Linked DNA regions of Homo sapiens: region 2 is linked to region 1. Evidence: fine-mapped expression QTL. Tissue or cell type: tibial nerve. Region 1 holds a variant in brackets; the other region holds the start of a gene. All regions are shown on one strand. Distances are between the middles of the regions.

Evidence for each region. PIP is the estimated chance that this variant, and not a neighbour inherited with it, causes the effect.
Region 2: DCLK3 starts here. The variant in region 1 is fine-mapped to the expression of DCLK3 in tibial nerve (GTEx, PIP 0.96).

The regions. Positions count from the first base shown.
Region 1 is chr3:36,785,226-36,796,269 of GRCh38, reverse strand. No RefSeq gene overlaps it. Among named protein-coding and RNA genes, the nearest start is that of DCLK3, 26 kb to the right of the region's middle. The variant G/A (reference allele first, on the strand shown) is at 4,812.
Region 2 is chr3:36,759,858-36,769,240 of GRCh38, reverse strand. It overlaps DCLK3 (doublecortin like kinase 3), which reads left to right and starts at 4,688. Exons shown (of 5, transcript NM_001394672.2): 1 at 4,688-5,059. The coding sequence starts at 4,978. LOC105377029 (a long non-coding RNA gene) reads left to right here. Exons shown (of 3, transcript XR_940721.2): 3 at 1-253. It also overlaps the pseudogene HSPD1P6.

The sequences.
Region 1 (11,044 bases):
TTATTTGCTCCACGGAGGACTATGTCTGGAGACATTTTTGGTTGTCATAACTGGGAAGGCGTTACTGGAATCTTGTGGGTGGAGGCCAGCAATGCTGTTAAACATACTGCAATGCACAGGACAGCCTCCACAACAAAGAATTGTCCAGCTCAAATTGTCAATAGTGTTCAGGTTGAGAAAACCTTTTGATAGTCTTGGTTTTGAGTGACAGGGGGCAGTAAGATCAAGAGGAATCATCTATTAATTCTATTATATACATGTATCACTGGTTTTCCAAGTTAGTTTCTGTTGCAGGTTGGGTTCCATGAGAAACTGACTCTGAGATAGAGTTTAGCTTGCAGGATATTTATTAAGTAGAGGCCTGGGGATCAATGCTTATGAAAGGGAGAGGCAGAAAGCAGAAGTGAGCCAAAGGAAGGTCCAATGACAGCCATGGCTCTCTAACTAGAACGATGCTTCAAAGTTGTCCAAAGTTGGGTCAAGAAGTCCAGGCCTTTTATACCCTATCTTGATTAGTCATTGAATGTTGGCTATCCTGGGAAGAGTGTGACCTTGGTTGAGGGGACTCTGAAGCTGAAGCAATATCTGAAGGGGCTGAGGGCTCAGGACTATCCACTGACAGGCCCCCCCAGCAGTTGGGGCAACAAGTTATTCCCTGGAGGGGCTTCTGGGCAGGGCATCACAGTCTCCATCACAAAATATGGGGGTTTCAGGATCAGTAGGAAAGATAAGGAAGTAGAGGAATTGTGCAGGTGAGGGCAGGAACTGCTAACACTACCATCTCCTCTTTCAGGGAAGAATGAAATCAAAAGGCTCTTTTGGAAGCTGGGGCCGTTCTTGCTGGGTAGCAAAGAGAACAGCATTTCCAGGTGAGGAGCTCCCACATTCGCCCTCCCTCGTGGAACCGGAGCCTTGCTCACAAACTGTTGCAATGGTCACCTGCTTAAGGCACAGTAGATGTTTGAAAGATTAGGAACTGTCGCCTTCTGTGGGAAGGGTGGGGTTACTTGAATAAGGTAGCAGTTGGGTGCACCAAATTGAAAGACACTGAAGTGAATGAATATGGAAAGTGAGGATCCATTAGAAAAAGAGACTGAGTGAGGAAGGGAGGGAGGTTCATCCACAGTGGTCATTCCTCTTGAAAAGGCCAAAAACCCTTTCAGATGGAGCTCCTCCTTTGTTTCTCCCTCGAGTTTCTATTACTCTGAGGTTGTTCAGACCATTTGGTACAGAAACTTACATGTGTGTTGTGATGCTGTGGTTTGGTCTGGGTGGGGTTAGCAAAGTTGGATGGCTTAAGGAAGGATGGATAGAATCTGTCCTAGTCATATCCTCATGGCTGTGAGGATCTCAAGGGGAGTCACCAGTAATTATTAGCAACAATGGATGAAACCAGGAGCTGGTTGTGTTAGCAGATGCTGATGTGTGAGGGGCAGTAAGCCTGAATTTCCTAGTTGCCTCCTTAGGTGAGCAGGACTACTTTTGAGTCAGTAAGAGATGGGGAGACAAGCAGGGGGCACTCTGCTATTTCAAGTCACATGTAGAACCAATGACTTATCTTTGTAAAGCTGGGAATGGTTACAGGATATGTTGTACATGGAAACTATCAGTCTTAGGTGTAAGGGGAAAAAACTGAAAATAGGTGGTGTATGTTAACTGTTCAGATTAGTGTGTGAAGAGGGATTGAAATCTATGGTTCTAAAACCCAGCTGGACAGGCAAGAGGAGAATTCAGGTATTGGAGTGGGACTGTATAAAACTGGAAAGAGCCTTAGAGGTTGACTCCTTTTAGCCCTGCACCCTGACACACACACACACACACAAACACACACACACACACTTTACAGCTGAGAAACTGAGGCCAGAGAAGAAAGAGCTGAGCCAAAACTTTACACCCATTGTGGTAAATCAGATGATCATTCCCAACTGTTGGCTGCTGCTCTCCACTGGGTTTATAGCCACAGTGTCCCTCGCAGGTGCCCCTGTCTGTGGATGGATTATATTTCTGCTAAGGACGTCAGGGTTGGCCATTTTGACTTGCTTTGGCCAATACACTGTTCTATTTACCATATGTAAATATAAGCTCTAAGTGCATCAGAAGGCCCACCATTGCTCTTTCCCCTCTGCCATGAGACTGGTGTTCATCTCAGAGAGGGGCTGCACATTTAGCCTAGATCTCAGAATGAAGAAGACATGTGGGCCGGGTGCGGTGGCTCACACCTATAATCCCAGCACTTTGGGATGTTGAGGCGGGCAGATCAATTGAGGTCGGGAGTTTGAGACCAGCCTGGCCAACATGGTGAAATCTTGTCTCTACTAAAAATACAAAAATTAGCTGGGCATGGTGGCACATGCCTGTAATCTCAGCTACTCGGGAGGCTGAGGCAAGAGAATCACTTGAACCCAGGAAGTAGAGGTTGCAGTGAGCCAAGACTGCGCCACTACACTCCAGCCTGGACAACAGAGCTAGACTCCGTCTAAAAAAAAAAAAAAAAAAGACACATGGAGCAGATCTGTAGTTGACTCATGGCCCACATGTAATATGAACAAGTAACAATCCTTTGCTGATGTAAGCCACTGACATTTTGAGATTTTCTTTTATTTTTTAAAAAAATCACAGCATATAACTTAACCAATGCTGATTATTCCTAAGAGTGGGCTAGGCAGGCCAAAGACAGGATGGGGCCAAGGCAAAGGGCCTAGTTGAAAAGATGTCTCAGAAGAGACTAACTAAAGTTTGGTGAGGGAGAGTGTCTTTGCCATTATATAATACAAGAATAAAAAAGACAGCATCTACATCACCATTGCAGACATTGCTAATCAGCTATGGCACTTTTCCTACTGAGTGCTCCTGAGAAGGTTCAGAATCCTTCTCAGTAGCACCACATGTTAATCAGTGTTTCAAGCAAGATTGAATCCATTTGCTAAGAGCACAGACTTTGAGGCCAGTGCTCTGATTTCACATTCAGGCTTCACTGCACACTCTTGTGTGAGCTATGTGAGTTGAGTGAGTTACTTAGCCTCTCTGTGCTTCCTTCTTTGTAAAATGGGAATCGTGCTAGTGTGTACTTCCTAGGGTTGTTGTGAGGATTAAGTGAGTTAGATATATAGAGTACTTACAACAATGCCTGGCACATAGCGAGTACTGAATGATGACGATGTTGATGAAATTAGAGAAGAAGAAACTGAGACCTAGTCATTAGTGGAGCCTAGCCTGGCTGTCGCTCATATGTACCTCCCCATTCCCAGCCTGCCTTATTAACAAGGGGTGCTGGGCAGAACCAAGACAGTGATGGAGAGGTGTTCCCCATGCTATGGGAGATCACCGCTGAGGAAGATTAATATGGTCAGGGACTGATATGTAGGCCTGAATGCTGTGAAATCACTAAACCATGTCAGAAAGTGACATTAAGAAAGGACCCTGCTGCTTCCTTTGCTTCAACATCTTCCCTTTCTAGGAGCCATCTTTTTAGATTGAAGTATCCTGATCAATATAGTCGTTTGCTGTTTAATAATAGAAGTGCATCTCCATTATCCTCATCCCCTAGGATCCCTAGGCCCCTTATAGGTCTCTTGCTTCCTGGGGACTGACACCGGCCCTGTTGCTTGGCTGGCGGGGTGGGGGTGGTGGTGCTCAGGGTCTGCCTATCACTCCCCCTCCCTTGAGCTATGGGTATCCCTATGGGTACCAAGGCATCCGTAGCCTGGGGAGATGCCTCTTGGTCAGCAGGTCTTGAGCTCCCCCTGTGGGAGAAGAAGATTCCCAGGCTGATCTAGAAGGGCCCCTCTACAAATCAATGCAGATGGTGCAGGGAACTGAGCCTGCAGGCGAGTTATTTCTTAAGCTTTCCAGGTTTTAGTTTGGAAACTGTTGTCTGGATCCAGGTGGGAGCCATCTCCCTTCCTCCTCTGGCTATGCCCTGGATCTGCCCTCTTCTGCCTCCCTCCATTTTTGCTCTTACTTCTCTTTTTTAAAGTGTGCTCTGGAAAAAGACTATAATTGTCTCATCCACACTGCAATGTAAGTATATTCATTCAAGGAGTGTTTATTGAATGTATTCCATACCCTGGCTAAATCCTGGGGACACAGATGCTCTAGAATGTAAGGACCATGCAGTACAGTTCTCCTTGGACTGATCTAGTTCTTCCTCCTTTCTCACTTGCAGTTCTCAAGAATAACTGGCATGTGCTGGAAATATAACATCTTGAAATAAGGAGGAAGTGGCCAGAATACTCTGGGCTCTGATCTTGTCCCTCCTAGAACAAGGTGTCCTTCAATGCCTTAGCCCAGCATATCATGTTGTTCCCAGGGTATAAAACCCAGGAGGACTGCTTTCCCGGCCCTTCAGCTGTTGGGCAAGTGGGGCACGTGAAGACAGGATTCCATCCACTCAGGACAGCTTTTCTGAGCCTTGGGAACTGACTTGCTATGAATTCTAGGCTTTTACTCTTTCTTGCTGTCTATCTGTGAGTAAAAACGTTGCTTCACTTAACTTGCATGAGTGTTCTGTCTCACTGGACTCAAGCAAGTAGTAGAAATTGCAGCCCAAGATGCAGTGGGCTAAAGTGGTAACCAGTGCACAGTGAGCCAGCTTTGCAGTCCATGGAGGCAGAGATATTCACTGTTCTGTTCACTGATGACTCCTAAGGGGCTAGATCAGTGCCAGCCATATAGAAGGAGGTCTATAAGTATTTGTTAAATGAAAAGACATAAAAGAACTATGGGAAACAGATATACAAAGAGCTAACTGTTGCAAGGGAGCAACAACTATTTGGGCTGGTGGAGCGGGGGTAAAAAAATTTACCAAGACA[G/A]TTGTGGATAAAGAACGGCAGATTTGTGAGAGACAGTAGAAAATACTTTGTTGTGATGAGGCAATGGGCAGAATCAGCAGAAGAGGAGTGGACTGCCAGGAAACAAAAGCTTGCTGGGGATTTTCTAGAAGAGTGTTTATGCTGTGTGCTGAAGAGGGCTTTGTGCAGTACCGATGATGCCAAGGTTGCAATGGATAATTTGCAGGTGCCTGGTGGCAAGTTGTGTGCAGGAGGGCTGCATATCCAGGACATTGAAGAAAGGCAGACTTGCCCCTTATCTGCTTTCTCTTTCCTGCTTTCCCCTGCTCCCTCTAGCCTGCTCCCTTTTCCCTTTCCCTTTCCCCTGCTCCCTTTTCCCTAATTAGGACTCTGCACTAACTGCCACACTGTGGCAAATACACAGACGTTGTAAGGATTGGGGATTATGGAATTCTGGCTGCCTAGTAGGAGGTGTTAGGAAGGGCTTCACGAGGAGGAGATGATTAGGTTGAATCTTAACGAATGAGTCAGAGTGGAGCTGGGCACAGTGCTATGCACCTGCAGTCCCAGCTACTTGAGAGACTGGGATGGGAGGATAACTTGAGCACAGGAGTTTGAATCCAGCCTCGGCAACATAGTGAGATCCTGTCTCTTAAAAAAAATGAGTCAGAGTGACTTGTGAGAAGTCTGAGGCGAACGGGAAGAGCATTCCTTATCGAGGACCATATAAGCAAAGGCCCACAAGTGAGCAATTCATAGGCTATGGGGGCTAAGGAAGAGGGAGGCATCAAAACTGACTCCCAAATTTTTGATTTAGGCAATTGAGTTGATATTGGTTCCATTCACTGAGCCAGGGAGCACTGGAGAAGAAGCATGTTAGATTTGAGATGCTTGTGTGACAACTAGATGGAGACCCTATGGGTGATAAGCTGAAGGATGAGTATCCAGCTTGGGGGAAGGGATGGGATGCAGGTAAGGGCATGAGAAGGTGGCCTGAGGAGCATGACTGCGGGATAGAGCCATGGAGCAAGCAGCACTTAAAGGATGGACAAGGAAATAAATTCTGTGAAGGAGGTGAAGAAAGAATGGCTAGAAAGGCAGGTACCTACAAATGTCAAGGGTATGGAGGGATTTTAGGAGGTGAGAGGGGTCACCTGTGCCAAATGTAGGAGTGTATGAGGCACAGTGATTGGAACATTCCCACTGGGTTCAACAGTTAGAAGGTCTTGAAACACTTAGCAGGAATTGTTTTAGCAGAAGAGCAGAAGCCATTGGGTTGAAGAGTAACTTGGAGTAGAGAAGGTGGCCCTGAGCAGTGTCAACAACTCCTTTCAAAGGACTGATGAAAAGCTGGCAACAGCTAATCCTTCTCACCATCCTGGACAAATTAACATTTTGATAAGGGCAAAACTTGTTTTACTTTAAGTTCATGGAGTGCAGGTCCTGTAATAAAGCATGAAGTGTCAGTGTGTCTGTGGGAGGTGAGTTTTCTACAGGGTGAGGAGGAGGGACTTGATTCCAGTGCAGTGGTTCTCACAGTGTCTAAGTGCTGAACCAGTAGCATCAACATCACCTGGAAACTTGGTGTAAATGCCAAGCCTCAGCCTCATCCTGAGGAATTCTGCATCAGAACTCTGGGGGAGACCTAGGAATCTGTTTTTATAAACCCTCCTGATGATTCTGATGTACACCAAAATTTGAGAACTGCTGGTCTGGAACCCTCTTTGAGAATCACTCTTCTAAGTATTTTATTGGATTTATACATTATTGGGTAAGAATTGGCAGCTTTGCCATGTTAAGTTACCCTAGCGATGAAGATTGCGTAGCTCTCCTTTTAGATACTTCTTTTATGTTCTTCATAGCAGTGTAAAATTTTCTCTGCAGGTAACGTGGTCATTCCTTGTTGTTAACTCTGACTCTTGAGTGTTTCTGTTGCTAGTATGAATGGTATTTTATCCCCTACAAGATTATCTGATTGATTTTTGCTTATGTAAAGAAATGGGGCTATTTTGAATTTACCATACAGAGAAGTGAACATAAGAGGACAACTCAGTGAAGTTCCACAAACTGAGCACTTCCTGTAACCAGCACCCCAGATCAAGAATCAGAACGTGACAAGCACCTAGAATCCACCTTTTTGCCTTCTGTTAGTCACAATGTCCCCAAGGGTAAATACTACCATGACTTCTAACTTATGTTTCTTTTGCCTGTTTTTGTTCTTTATATAAATGTAATCATATGGTGTAAAATAGTTTGCATCTGACTTATTTTGCTCAATATTGTGTTTTTTCTTTAATTTGTAATGGGCAAAAGTTATGTATATTTCTGATGTACAACATGATGTTTTGATATATGTACACATTGTGGAATGGCTAAATCATCTCCATTCAGCCTGTGTCCTGCCCTTTTGATTTCCCTGGTGGGAATCAGATAAGAGCCCATTGTATCTCCCTAATTTTAGGATAGTCAGCTTTCTGAAGTCCTCTTTCTTGTCTTGAAGCAAAGTAAAAATTGCAATTCACCTTTACCTCCAGGAGCCAGATATGAGTTTCAAAACCACTCTCTAAGACATACTCCTCAATCATACTGTTTATAAATTGAAGTAGGTGAGGACTTACAAAGGTCATGTGTTCCACTGTGGGATATCTACTTTGAAAGGGGTGGTCTGTCCCTCAATTCCATTTCATAGCTTGGGCACTCATTCCCAACTTCCATTTTAACATGCTGACATATAACATTACTTCAACTAATCCTAAAACTCTGCAATAAAGATATTTTCATCTCCATTTGATGAGGAGACTTCCTGAGCCAGAGGCTAGGAAGCTAGGAGTTCAAATTACTTTCCCAAGGCCACCAGGTTGGTGAGCACCAGTGCTAGGATTCCAGCCCAGGCCTGTCTGACTCCAAATTCTGTGTTGAATCCATAATAATACAAAATAAATGTTGCAGGTTGGGTTCTCTAGAAGCAGATGCTGAGACAGAATGCAGGGCTCATGGTGTTTATTAGGAGTCAAAATATGTAAAGGGAAGGGACAGGAAACAAGATTGGGAAGACAGAGAAGTCAAACTGCAATGCAGGCTAGGCACAGTGCTCATGCTTGTAAGCCCAGCACTTTGGGAGGCCTAGACAGGCAGATTGCTTGAGCCCAGAAGTTCAACACCAGCTTGGGCAACATGGTGAAACCCCATCACTAGTAGTCTCAGCTACTCTGGAGGCTGAGGTGGGAGGATCACCTGAGCCCAGGAAGTTGAGCCTGCAGTGAGCTGAGATTACGCCACTGCACTCCAGATGGGAGTGAGACCCCATTTCAACAAAACAAAACAAAAAAATTACAATGCAGGCCTGACAAGGCCTTGCCCTACATGGCAGGGTGTTCTGGAGCAAGAAGAGCTATCTCCACATGTGCTGAAATGCCTGGGCCTTACTGCCCCCACCTCACTCAGTCTCTGATGTGGGCTGCCCCCAGAAGGGCATGACTTCCACCAAGGTGGCTTTCTGCAGTTGAGCCTGATCCTGAAGGAACTGGCAGCTGGAGGCAACAAATCCTGCATTGGTGGGGGCTCTGGGTGACTCATCTCTATGCCTGAAGCACCATGAAGATTTGAGACTTCTCCTGGACCTGACTATTCCCTTCCCAGTGAGAGGCAGCACCAGTTCTGAGTAGGGCAGAGGGCAGAGGGCAAAAGGCAGATGGCAGGATATTATGGGAGCTATGTCTGTAACAGTCATCAACTGGGAGACGGTGAGGGGAGAGGTCCATTCTGAGGAGCCTGTGGTGGGCTCTATGAGGGGGTTGTGGTGTCTGAGAAGTGGGCAGCCTCTGTGGAAGGAAAAGTGGAAGCAAGATGCAGGGGTGGGTGTGGGCAGGGTCAAGAAGAGTCTCTCTTTGAAAGAAGAAGCAGCCTCAGGAACCCAAGCTGAGGGAGGAGCCTCCAGCACTTGGCTGTGGTAACCCTCTATGGGAGTGGCCTCTTTTTTATTAAGCCATCTTTTAGCTGACATGTGAAGAGTGAGCAAATGCTGGCTGGATGAGGAACTGGGAAAGAGCATTTGAGGCATATGGTGCAGCATGGCAAAGTCTCTGAGGCTCAGAAGAACTTAACCAGGTCTTAGAATGAGGCTATAGTTATCAGATCAGAGCAAGTGTAGGAGAAAAGGCCAAGAGGTACACAGTAGACCAAATCATGCAGAGGCTCGTAGGCTGTGGGGAATTTTGCATTTCACTCGAAGAGCAAGGAAAGCCATTGCTCTGCTGATCTGAAGCAGGGGAGAGCCCTAGAAGAAAAGTCCAGGAGTGTACAATCAACATACAGACTTAGGCTTCTTTCAACAAAGGACATGTTTGTTTTTTCTCAATTCTGAAAAGTGAGTAGGAGTTAGACAGATGGGGGTAGAGCAGGCATGTGAGAATGTTCTAGGCCAGGGGTTGGCAAGGCTTTTCTATAATGGGCCAGATAGCAAATATTTTCATTCTGTGAACCATATGATCTCTGTGGCTGTTATAGCACCAAAGCAACTGTAGACAATATAGAAGTGAATGGACATGGCTGGATTCCAGTAAAACTTTACTTACAGAAACAAATGGCAGGCAGGATTGGCAGAAATGCCCTGTGGGCCATAGTTTGCCAGCTGCTGTTTTAGGCCAGGGGACAGCAGGTACAAAGGCCCTGAGATGGGAAGGAATGAGGTATATTTAGGGAACTGATTCATGGACAATGTGGCTGGAGTTATTAAGCAAGGGGGTTAGCAGCTCAGAAGAAGTATGGAGTTAAGGGCAGGTGCTAGATGATTTTACAGTCTTGTAGCCCATGTTAATGATTTTGTATTTTACCTTAATGGGAAGTCATTGAGTAATTTAAACACTTTCAATTTAGCTATAAACATATACAGAAAAATGCACATATGATAAGTGCATAGTTTACTGAATTTCCACAAACTGAATATCCACATAAACAGCACCCAGACCAAGAAACGGAATATTATCAGAAGCCAAGAAGGACTCACTTTGTACCCCCTGCCAGTCCACACCCGTCCAGTAAGCACTATTTTGACTTTGCACAACATATATTTGTTTGCCTGTTTTTCTATTTTATGTATATGGAATTATCTGTTATCTGGCCTCTTTCACTCAAAGTAATGTCTATGAAATTTGTCTGTAGTAGTTGTAGATTGTCCATTCTCATGATATGAATACACAATTGGGTTGTGAATAAGCATTTGGGATGTTCTCAGTTGTGGGCTGTTATGAATTGTGCTGCTCTGAACATTTATGAACATGTCTTGATAAATATGCATTTCTGTTGGATGAATATGCTTAATGGTATAATTGCAGGGTCACAGGATGGTTGTATATGCAGCTTTAGCAGATATTATAGAATCATTTTCCAAAATGATGATACCATTTCACATTCTCACTAACAAGGTATGAGAGTTCCAATCTCTTCTCACACTCACCTACACTTGATATTCTGCACTGAAAAATTTTAATTTTTTAGCTATTCTGGTTGTTTTGTAGAGATATATCACTGGGGTTTTAATTTTCATTTTCCTAATGAGTGAACAGGGGAGCATCTTTTCAAAATTTTATTGGCCATTGTAGACTTTTCCAAGAGCATAAAATGATCACATCTGCATTCTAAGTAATCCTCTCTGGCTTTTGGTGTGGAATATCTATTTGTGGATGCAGCAGGAATCCAAACAGGGATTTGAGTTAGGAGATTGTGGCAGTGGTCAAGACCAAATGTGATGATAGCTTGGACTAGGGCAGAGGTAGTTGAGTTGGAAAGATGTAGATGAATTTGAAGGCCGTTTTGGAGGTAAAATTGTCAGGACCTGAAGGTGGATTAGATGCAGGGACTGAGAGAGAAGAAGGTATAAAAATTGTGGCTGCAAAATTTCTGGTTAACACACCATTTCTTCCTATTCTGAATTTTAGGTTTGAGATCATTTCATATATTTTCTTTAGGGTTTTTTGGTTACTTTCAAAAGCCTGGAGAAGAAAATTTTAATTGGAAAAAAGAAACACATCGAATATGGTAATTGAATATGACCTTTTTATTATTCATTTTTATTTGACATTTCTTTCTTATTCTCTCAGGTTTCTGAATTCTTGTTCCAGATGGCTCAGAAATGAAATAATCATAAGAACCTAGGTAAGTATTATATTGGTTGTGAGAAAATTCTCAGAAGCATAGGGCCCTTTAGAGACTGCTGGTCTGGCTGGTGAGGTAAAGAGTTTTGAGACATTTTTTAT
Region 2 (9,383 bases), 26 kb after region 1:
TGGCCGAACTTAGCTACCTGTTGAAGTTTAGGTCTGCATCATATTTCTCCACATTTATCTCGGACCAGCAGATATTTAGGCTATTGGCAGAAGCATACCCGGGCAAACCAAACCATGGGAGTACTTTCTAACCCCCTGTTCACATTATGTTCAATAACATCCTACTGGCCTAAGTAAGAACGATGGTCACTTAGCCAGGTGTCGTGGTGTGCGCCTGTAGTCCCAGCTACTCAGGAGGCTGAGGCAGGAGAATCACTTGAACCTGGGAGGCAGAGGTTGCAGCAAGCCGAGATTGCGCCATTGGACTTCAGCCCGGGCAACAAGAGCGAAACTAAGTCTTAAAAAAAAAAAGGCCTCACTCACTGCCGACCTGCCTCGCCACGCCCCGGGCATGCCCTGCCACCACCTCACAGAAATGCTTCGGTTCCCCACTGTCTTTAGATAAGACCATTGTCCAGGGTATTGGTTCCTCATCTCACTCGGGCTTATGCCAAAGATGTAAAATTCAGTGCAGATGCCTGAGCCTTAATGCTTCAAGGTGTAGACCTTTTAGTCGATGCTGTAGCCATTACAATGGGGCCAAAGGGAAGAACAGTGATTATTGAGCAGAGCTGGGGAAGTCCCAAAGTAACAAAAGATGGTGTGACTGTTGCAAAGTCAATTGACTTAAAGAATAAATATAAAAATATTGAAGCTAAACTCGTTCAAGATGTTGCCAATAACACAAATGAAGAGGCTGGGGATGGCCCTACCACTGCTACTGTACTGGCATGCTCTATTGCCAAGGAAGGCTTTGAGAAGATTAGCAAAGGTGCTAATCCAGTGGAAATCAGGAGAGGTGTGATGTTAGCTGTTGATGCTGTAATAGCTGAACCTAAAAAGCAGTCTAAACCTGTGACCACCCCTGAAGAAATTGCGCAGGTTGCTACAATTTCTGCAAGTGGAGACAAAGAAATTGGCCATATCCTCTCTGATGCAGTGAAAAAGGTGGGAAGAAAGGGTGTCATAACAGTAAAGGATGGGAAAACACTGAATGATGGATTAGAAATTATTGAAAGCTTGAAGTTTGATCGAGGCTATGTTTCTCCATACTTTATTAATACATCAAAAGGTCAGAAATGTGAATTCCAGGAGGCATATGTTCTGTTGAGTGAAAAGAAAATTTCTAGTGTCCAGTCCATTGTACCTGCTCTTGAAACTGCCAGTGCTCACCGTAAGCCTTTGGTCATAATCACTGAAGATGTTGGTGGAGAAGCTCTAAGTACACTTGTCTTGAACAGCCTAAAGATTGATTTTCAGGTTGTGGCAGTCAAGGCTCCAGGGTTTTGTGACAAAGAACCAGCTCAAAGATATGGCTGTTACTACTGTTGGTGCAGTGTTTGGAGAAGAGGGGTTGATCCTACATTTTGAAGATGTTCAGCCTCATGACTTAGGAAAAGTTGGAGAGGTCATTGTGACCAAAGATGATGCCATGCTCTTAAAAGGAAAAGGTGGCAATGCTCAAATTGAAAAACATATTCAAGAAATCATTGAGCAGTTAGATGTCACAACTAGTGAATATGAAAAGGAAAAACTGAATGACTGGCAAAACTTTCAGATGGGATAGCTATGCCAAAGGTTGGTGGGACAAGTGATGTTGAAGCGAATGAAAAGAAAGACAGAGTTACAGATGCCCTTAATGCTACCAGAGCTGCTGTTGAAGAAGGCATTGTTTTGGGAGGGGGTTGTGCCCTGCTTTGGTGCATTCCAGCCTTGGACTCATTGACTCCAGCTAATGAAGATAAACTAATTGGTATATAAACAATCAAAACAACACTCAAAATTCCAGCAATGACCATTGCTAAGAATGCAGGTGTTGAAGGATCTTCGATAGTTGAGAAAATTATGCAACGTTCCTCAGAAGTTGGTTATGATGCTACTAGGGTCGGAGATTTTGTGAATATGGTGGGAAAAGGAATTATTGACCCAAGAAAGGTTGTGAGAACTGCTTTATTGGATGCTGCTGGTGTGGCCTCTCTGTTAACTACAGCAGAAGTTGTAGTCACAGAAATTCCTAAAGAAGAGAAGGACCCTGGAATGGGTGCAATGGGTGGAATGGGATGTGGTATGGGAGGGGGCATGTTGTAACTCCTAGAATAGTGCTTTACTTTTATTAATGAACTGTGACAGGAAGTCAAGGCAGTGTTCCTCACCAATAACTTCAGAGAAGTCAGTTGGAGAAAATGAAGAAAAGGCTGGCTGATGTTTAAGAAATCATTATAACCATCAGTTACTGGTTCAGTTGACAAAATATATAATGGTTTACTGCTGTCATTGTCCATGCCTATCAATACTTTATTTTGTATTTTTGAATAAAAAGACATTTGTACATTCCTGATATTGGGTACAAGAGTCATGTACCAATGTACTGCCTTCAACTTAAATAACTGAGGCATTTTTACTACTATTCTGTTAAAATCAGGATTTTAGTGCTTGCCACCACCAGATGAGAAGTTAAGCAGACTTTCTGTGGAGGGTGAGAATAATTATGTACAAAGTAGAGAAATATCCAATTATGTGACAACCTTTGTGTAATAAAAAATTGTTTAAAGTTAAAAACAAAACAAAACAAAAAAGAAAAGAAAGAAAAAGAAAGATGGCCAAGCCTAAAGTCAAGGTACAGGGAAACACACTCCAAGTACCATAAAGGGTGGATTGTCCAATTCAATTGAGGAATGGAGTGAATAACTGAAATTAATAATCTCACCTACCACATCATTATACCTGGATTCCAGGACGAAGGAAAAGGGACAAAGGAGTGCATCTGTCAGCCAAATCAGCATCTTTAAGGCATCTACTGAAAATCCAATACAACACTTACAATTATATTTCATTGGCCAGAAACTTTTCATATCATCACTCCTTGCTGCAAGGGAGGCTAGAAAATGTATTTTTTTTAAATTGCAGGTGGTAGTATGCTTAGCTAAAAAACATTTTTTTTAAAATACCGGATCAGAAATGAAAATAGGTGTTGAGTAGGCAATTAGCAATTTCTTTGCCAATATTCAACAAGATATATCCCTCACTCTTGTGAAGTAATCTGATAACTTAAGGTGTTCATTGTGATTGCTTGATATGTGTATATCTAGTTCGTATTTAAATCATGATAATCCAGCCAATAATTAAACACTGTGAGATTGCTGCTTTTGCAAGGAAGAAAACACAAGTCATCTGATCTCTCCTTTACAAAGCTTAAACCTTTTTACTAAAACTCAGTTTATTTAACTTTTATTTTCTCCTAAAATATAGGTGATAGGGCCAGGAAGAGTGGCTGTTAAAGAGAAAAGTAAGTGATTTTAAAAAGAAAGTGTGTAAGTATCTCAAGGACACTTGTCTCCCAGAGAGATTTCCAATAGGTTCTTCCTTCGGGTTTTTACTCAAATGTTACCTTTCCCAACCACTCAACTTACATAATCACATTCCCTTTTTCTTGGTTCATTTTTCTTCATACTATTTATCACCATACTTGTGTATTTTATTATCTGTCTCCCCCTACTAGAAGGTGAGTGACTTGAAGGCAGGGCATTTGTTGTGTTCACCATTGGTGAACTGGATTGCTGAAAACTGTCCTTGATGATGACTTCAGAGTACCTGGCCAACAAACCAGCTAGAACCAGGAGTTATTTTTTGCACAGCAGCATCATGGCATGGCTGTTGCAGCCATTTTGGAACCTTGAGGCAACAAGTCTGAGGAGAAAAGGCAAGATGTTGAAGGTGGCCATGTGGAATCATGGAAAGAGACTGAGTCCTTAACGTCATCCCTGAGCAGCTGAACACACACAGAGGAGCCTTCTTCCAGGCTTCTTGTTATGTGTGATAAAGAGAAAGACAGCCCCTGCCATCTGGGAGCTGGTCTGGTTCTATCAGCTCGGCCTTGGCGTTCTGTTGAGCATAAACAATTTCACAGAACAGCAACATCAGACCCAACAGACAAGACCACTTTGTGACTTGATTGATAAAGGCAAAAGCCAGACCACTCTGTAATCATGTCAACGGCCCTGTGGAGAGAAGGGTATGGCTGATCCAGTGAATTTATTATCTGACGCAGGAGAGATCTGGGAGTCAGTACCCGGGAATATGGGTCCCCAGACCCCGCACTGCAGACCTGAGGGACCTGCAAATATGAGGAACAGGTGTGTGGTGCTGGGAAGAGGTACAACAAAGCAAGGGGCCATCGAGCTGCCTTCAGATGGTACCAAGAAGCCACTAGGCTGGAGGAACGTTTTGCAGCCTAAGTCTTTGAGACCATGGGTGTGGACCAGAGTGTAAGCAGGTCTCTGAATCTGGGGGGCAACAAGGGTGTTAGAGTAGAACGGCCCTGGGACCTACGGTCAGTGTATCCAAGGAGCGGGAATGGGATAGGAGGAAGGAAGTGGTGTGGAAAGTCTGGCCCCTGCCCTGCAGGGAGGCACGAGGATGGCTGGTGGTCCTGGGGTCGCCTTTGGGCTGCCACCCACCCACAGAGAACAGGGGCAAAGCGCACGTTCAAAACCCAGCGCAGCCAGGTTCCACCGCGGAACTGCGCGGGGAAGGAGAGCAGAAAGGCTGGACTCCGCTGACCGGGGAGAGGCGGGACCGCCTTTGGGCGCTCACTGGAGAAGCAGGGGGTGTGGGAGCAAGTTCAAAGCCCGGCCCCGCCCGGCCTCCAGGGCCAGGAGCGGCGCGCATGGCGGGACCGGCGCAGAGAGGGCGGCTGCAGCTGGTGCGCGGTTGCTAAGTCCCGCGCCCCCGGAGACGTTCCCGGTGGCTGTCGCCGGGCGCTGCGCGGCGCGGGGCTGGCAGGCGGGCGGCGGGCGGCGGGAGGGAGAGAAGAGGGAGAGTCGGCGCGGGCTCGTGGCTGCTCGTCTCGCCCCGCCTTCCCGCGCCTGCTCGACCGTCGAGCCGCGTCCCCGCGCTGCCACCTCTGCTCCAGGCTCTCCCCGAGCCCGCCGCCGCGCCATGCCCGCCGCCACTCCAGCCCCGCAGCCGCCGCCGCCCCCGGCCCGGCCAGCCCCAGCCTGCCCGGCGCGGCCTGCCCCGGGTGAGTACCGTGCGCTCCGGCACCGACCCGTTCTGGGCGCCACCTTGGCGGGGGCGGGAGGACTCATTCGCCCTAACTCTGGACCCCGCTCCGTGCGGGATGTAGCAGCAGTGCCAGACCCCGCGTGGGTGTACGGAGGACTGTGTGTGTGTATGTGTGTGTACGTGTGTATGTGTGTGTACGTGTGTGTAAACGCGCGCGCGTGCGGGTGTACACCACCTGAAACCTGCTTTCTAGGGGAATAACGCTCTCCGGAGCTGATTTTATTTCCCTCGCCAGCAGGGGGGCCCTTCCTGGGAAACGCACTGGGTGTCTTTCAAGGTGCAGGTGCGGTGAGGCTGCAGAAGGGAGAAGGCGCAGGGAGGGAGCTGACATTTATTGTGCAACTCAACATGCCAAGCGCTTCACCTAGAGTTAAGCGTATTTCATCCTCTCCACAAATCTGTAAAGAATGGAATTATCCCCATTTCTCAGATGAGAAAACTGAGGCCCACAGAGCTCGTGCCTTGCCCAGGGTCACACGGCTCCATAGCAGCGGAGCTGGAGTTGGATCCAGGTCTCTAGAGGTCTCTGACCCATCTAAATGACAAGAAACCCTCCTTAGAACTAAAGAAACACAGAAGAACCAAAGATGATTAGGAAAAAGGATACAGGCAGAGCATTTGGGAATTAATATAAAAAAATCTGAGCTCGTGAAATATCCTATCAATTAATTTCAAATATAGGATCACATTTACACTCCTTTCCATGTCTGGCCCTGGGGGCGAGGTGTGGTGAGGAAGGGAGAAGGCTGTGCCAGTCCTTGGCAGAGGCGTCTGGGGACACCTTTTCAGAGTATCTGCCTGCTGGGAGGGGGGAAGTGTGTGAGAAGTTGTGGAGGGAACTCCGTTGTTATTCAATCCTAACAGTTAGTCATTCCTCCACCTCACCCCCTCCTAGTTGATTCCATTTCCTTTCCTTGATGTATTGTCCAAGATGACAGCTGTTAAATTGAAGCAGGGTCCCACCTTCATCATTGGCTGTCATAAAACCTCTTGGCATTAATTAGGTGGCCCTGCACTTTGATGATTGTATTAGGAGCTGTGAAGTGTCTGTGTAACTGCTTACAGTGGAGATCTGTTGGGCTGATGTTGAGCTAATGATCTTGATCAATGAGGCATCTACAGCAATAGGCAAGCATTGTGCTTATCCTTAGGATAAAGTAGCAAGAAGCAAGACCCTCAGGAAGAAAAAAAAAAAGAAAAGAGTATTGGGTTTGCCTCACAGCCCAACTTTAGAAAAGCATTTCAATTTAATATTTAAATTGCTTCACTGAAGAAAGAACAAAGAGGGGCAGAAAGTGTTTTCTGAAAGATGTTCTGTAACTCCTTTCATTTAGGTTTGAAAGATTTTTGAGTCATGTTCTTTTATGGTGAGCTTTGCCATCTTGGTGCGTATTGGTACCCTGGGTGCCTTCACTTCCAATTGCCAGTCCCTCCATCTCTTTGTTGGAGGATGACCCTTGGGCGGCAGAGCCTATGTTTGTAGGGACTCAGAACAGGGAGTGCCTGGGAATTTACATCTCCCCTGGGGCAGCCCCTCCTCAATGACTGATGGGTGCTGGAGTATAAATAGTCCAGCTTCTTTGCCCTTGATTGGGACACTCTGAAGCATGACATCCTTTGTTTCCAGAGATCCAATGTGGAGTTGTGTCAAATTGACCTCTATGGTTCTTTGCTTGGCTTGTTTCCCTCGCTTGGCTTGCTACTTTTTCTTGTTTTACTTCTTCACATCCCTACCATTTTTTCCTAGGAATATCTCCTAATACACTTTCATAGGAATTCTTATCTCAGGATCTGATTCTAAGGAATCCAGATAAAAACATGGACCCTTCTCACTGTCAATGTTTTTATTCTTCCTATGTTATCCAAACATGACTAACATCGGTAATAGGTAGCCCATGCTAACCTGTAGGGTGCCTTTGTATGAATTCACAAAAGGTGTTCCCTTCTGGGCAGATGGATCCCCATGCCCAGGCAACGGATTGGCAGACAGGTGTTCAGTGTCCACTAGCCCCCTGATCAGTGCTTCTTTGGCAGTGCACACAGTACTCAATGATCATGGTGGCGTGGTGCTCAGAAAAGCAAAAAACAGAGTTGCTTAGTTGTCCCAGGATCTCATTTCTGGCTTCTCTTTTTTCCCAAGAAAAAATCCCCCAAAGAGGGATTTTCCCCTTTTTTCCCCTAAATATTTGAATATTTCAGGCAGATGTTTTGGTTTTCTTTGGACAAGCCAGTCTTAGTTTCTTTCTAAAGCCAACAAAGGGGAGGAAAAGGGCTGCTTTGGCTGGTGGAATCTCAATCCTGCAGCCTGCAGGCGGGTGGTGGTGCCTGGTCAGGGAGGGTGGGTAGGTCTCCACCAGCCTCCAGAAGTTCTCAGAGGGGTCTTGTCTTGACGGTGAGGTTACTGGGTAGGGGCTTGGATGGGCTGCTTTAGTTGGAGGCTCTTGCTTGAAGACGTTTTCCTTTCCTTGGATCCAGGAGGGTCATTGTATCTGATCTGGCATCCTGAGTTTCCTCACCTTTTCCTTTGGTGGCCTCTTGATAATGTCTAAATTTTGCCCGTCTGCTGGTGGAGCAGAGCCCCTTTTGAAGATGCATACGTGGGGGAGTTCTTTGAAAAGAATGTTTTTGTTAACTGCTTGGTAATGTAGGTCAGAAGAGAGAAATCTAGGGAAAGTGAAAGAGTGGGAAGAAGACATCTGTACTGGGAATTGGGGAGGGGAGTTTGGCTCCATCCTCAGAGTTCTGAAGCCTCCTGGTGACCTGGGGCAAGTCACTGAACTTCTCTAGGAACCTCAGTATCTTCACCATTCATTTAATAGCAATTGTTCAGCCAGCCTCAGAGTGTTCTTTGATGGTCAAAGGGGAAATATTTTCATGGACTCATCCAGTGATTATAGGGGAAGCCCATAAAATCTTTATACAGAGACAACTGGCAATCTCTTGGGGACAGTGGTGTATGTAGAGGCATCATGATGTGGATAGCAAGTGGTAGAATAGAGATAATCACCAGATCAGTGGCTGCATGAAGGGACAGGGAAGTCTCCAGAGCTGCTTGGGCTGGTTTTGAAGGCTAAATGTTGACAGAATTTGCAAAGGGCAGGGTGTCATGTAGTGTGTAGTTATGGAGGTGAGTCCATCAGAATTGCTTTCACATTTGGGCTCTGGCCCCTCAAACCCATGTGATCCTGAGCGAGATACCCAACTACTCTGAGCCTCGGTTTCCTTATTGGTAAAATGGGCATATTCAAATTGCTCTGAGGATTTAGTGATGTAAAGCAATTACCAGATATTATTACAAATGAAAAGTATTGTTATTAAAGTTACCTTTTAGCTGAATGGATTCTGTTTGGCTGCCTGGGGCCAGTACTTTTTGAATATTGCTGGACATATGAATCATCTGGGGATCTTATTAAAATATAGATTCTGATTCAGGAGGTCTAGGGTGGGGCCTAAGATTCTGCTTTTCTCCCTAGCTCCTAAGTTCTGTAGATGTTGTTTCTTTCTTTTTTTAATTATACTTTAAGTTTTAGGGTACATGTGCACAACATGCAGGTTAGTTACATATGTATACATGTGCCATGTTGGTGTGCTGCACCCATTAACTCGTTATTTAACATTAGGTATATCTCCTAATGCTATCCCTCCCCCCTCCCCCAACCCCACAACAGGTCCCGGTGTGTGATGTTCCCCTTCCTGTGTCCATGTATTCTCATTGTTCAATTCCCACCTATGAGTGAGAAAATGCGGTGTTTGGTTTTTTGTCCTTGCGATAGTTTGCTGAGAATGAAAATGTGGCACATATACACCATGGAATACTATGTAGATGTTGTTTCTTTAGGGACCACATTTTGAGTACAAGGCCCTAGGCTACTCCCTCTTGGGTAAAGCCTGAGTCCTTTGTGGGACCTGAAGAGCACTGTGTTTGGAGAGATGATGGGGAGGGTTCAGGCCTCCTAGGCAGGTCTGGCCTGGAGCTGGGGTAGAGAGAGCTAGGAATTGCTGCTGTTGAGTAGGATGTTCCTACTGGGTAGATAATGGATCAAACCCAGCTTCCTTCAAATGCCCTAGGACCAGCCTCCTGGAGGAAATTCTTCCTGGCCAAATGGCCAAATACTGCCTGCTCTTGCATGCTGGCCCTGAGGATGTAGAGATGAATAAGCCATTGGCCCATCACTGCCCCTGCCACAGTGTGATTGCGGGGAGTGGGTGAGGAGGTGTGAGACATAGAAATGTACGATTATGATATGGTGAGATGAGCACTCTGTGGCGTTAGGGTAATG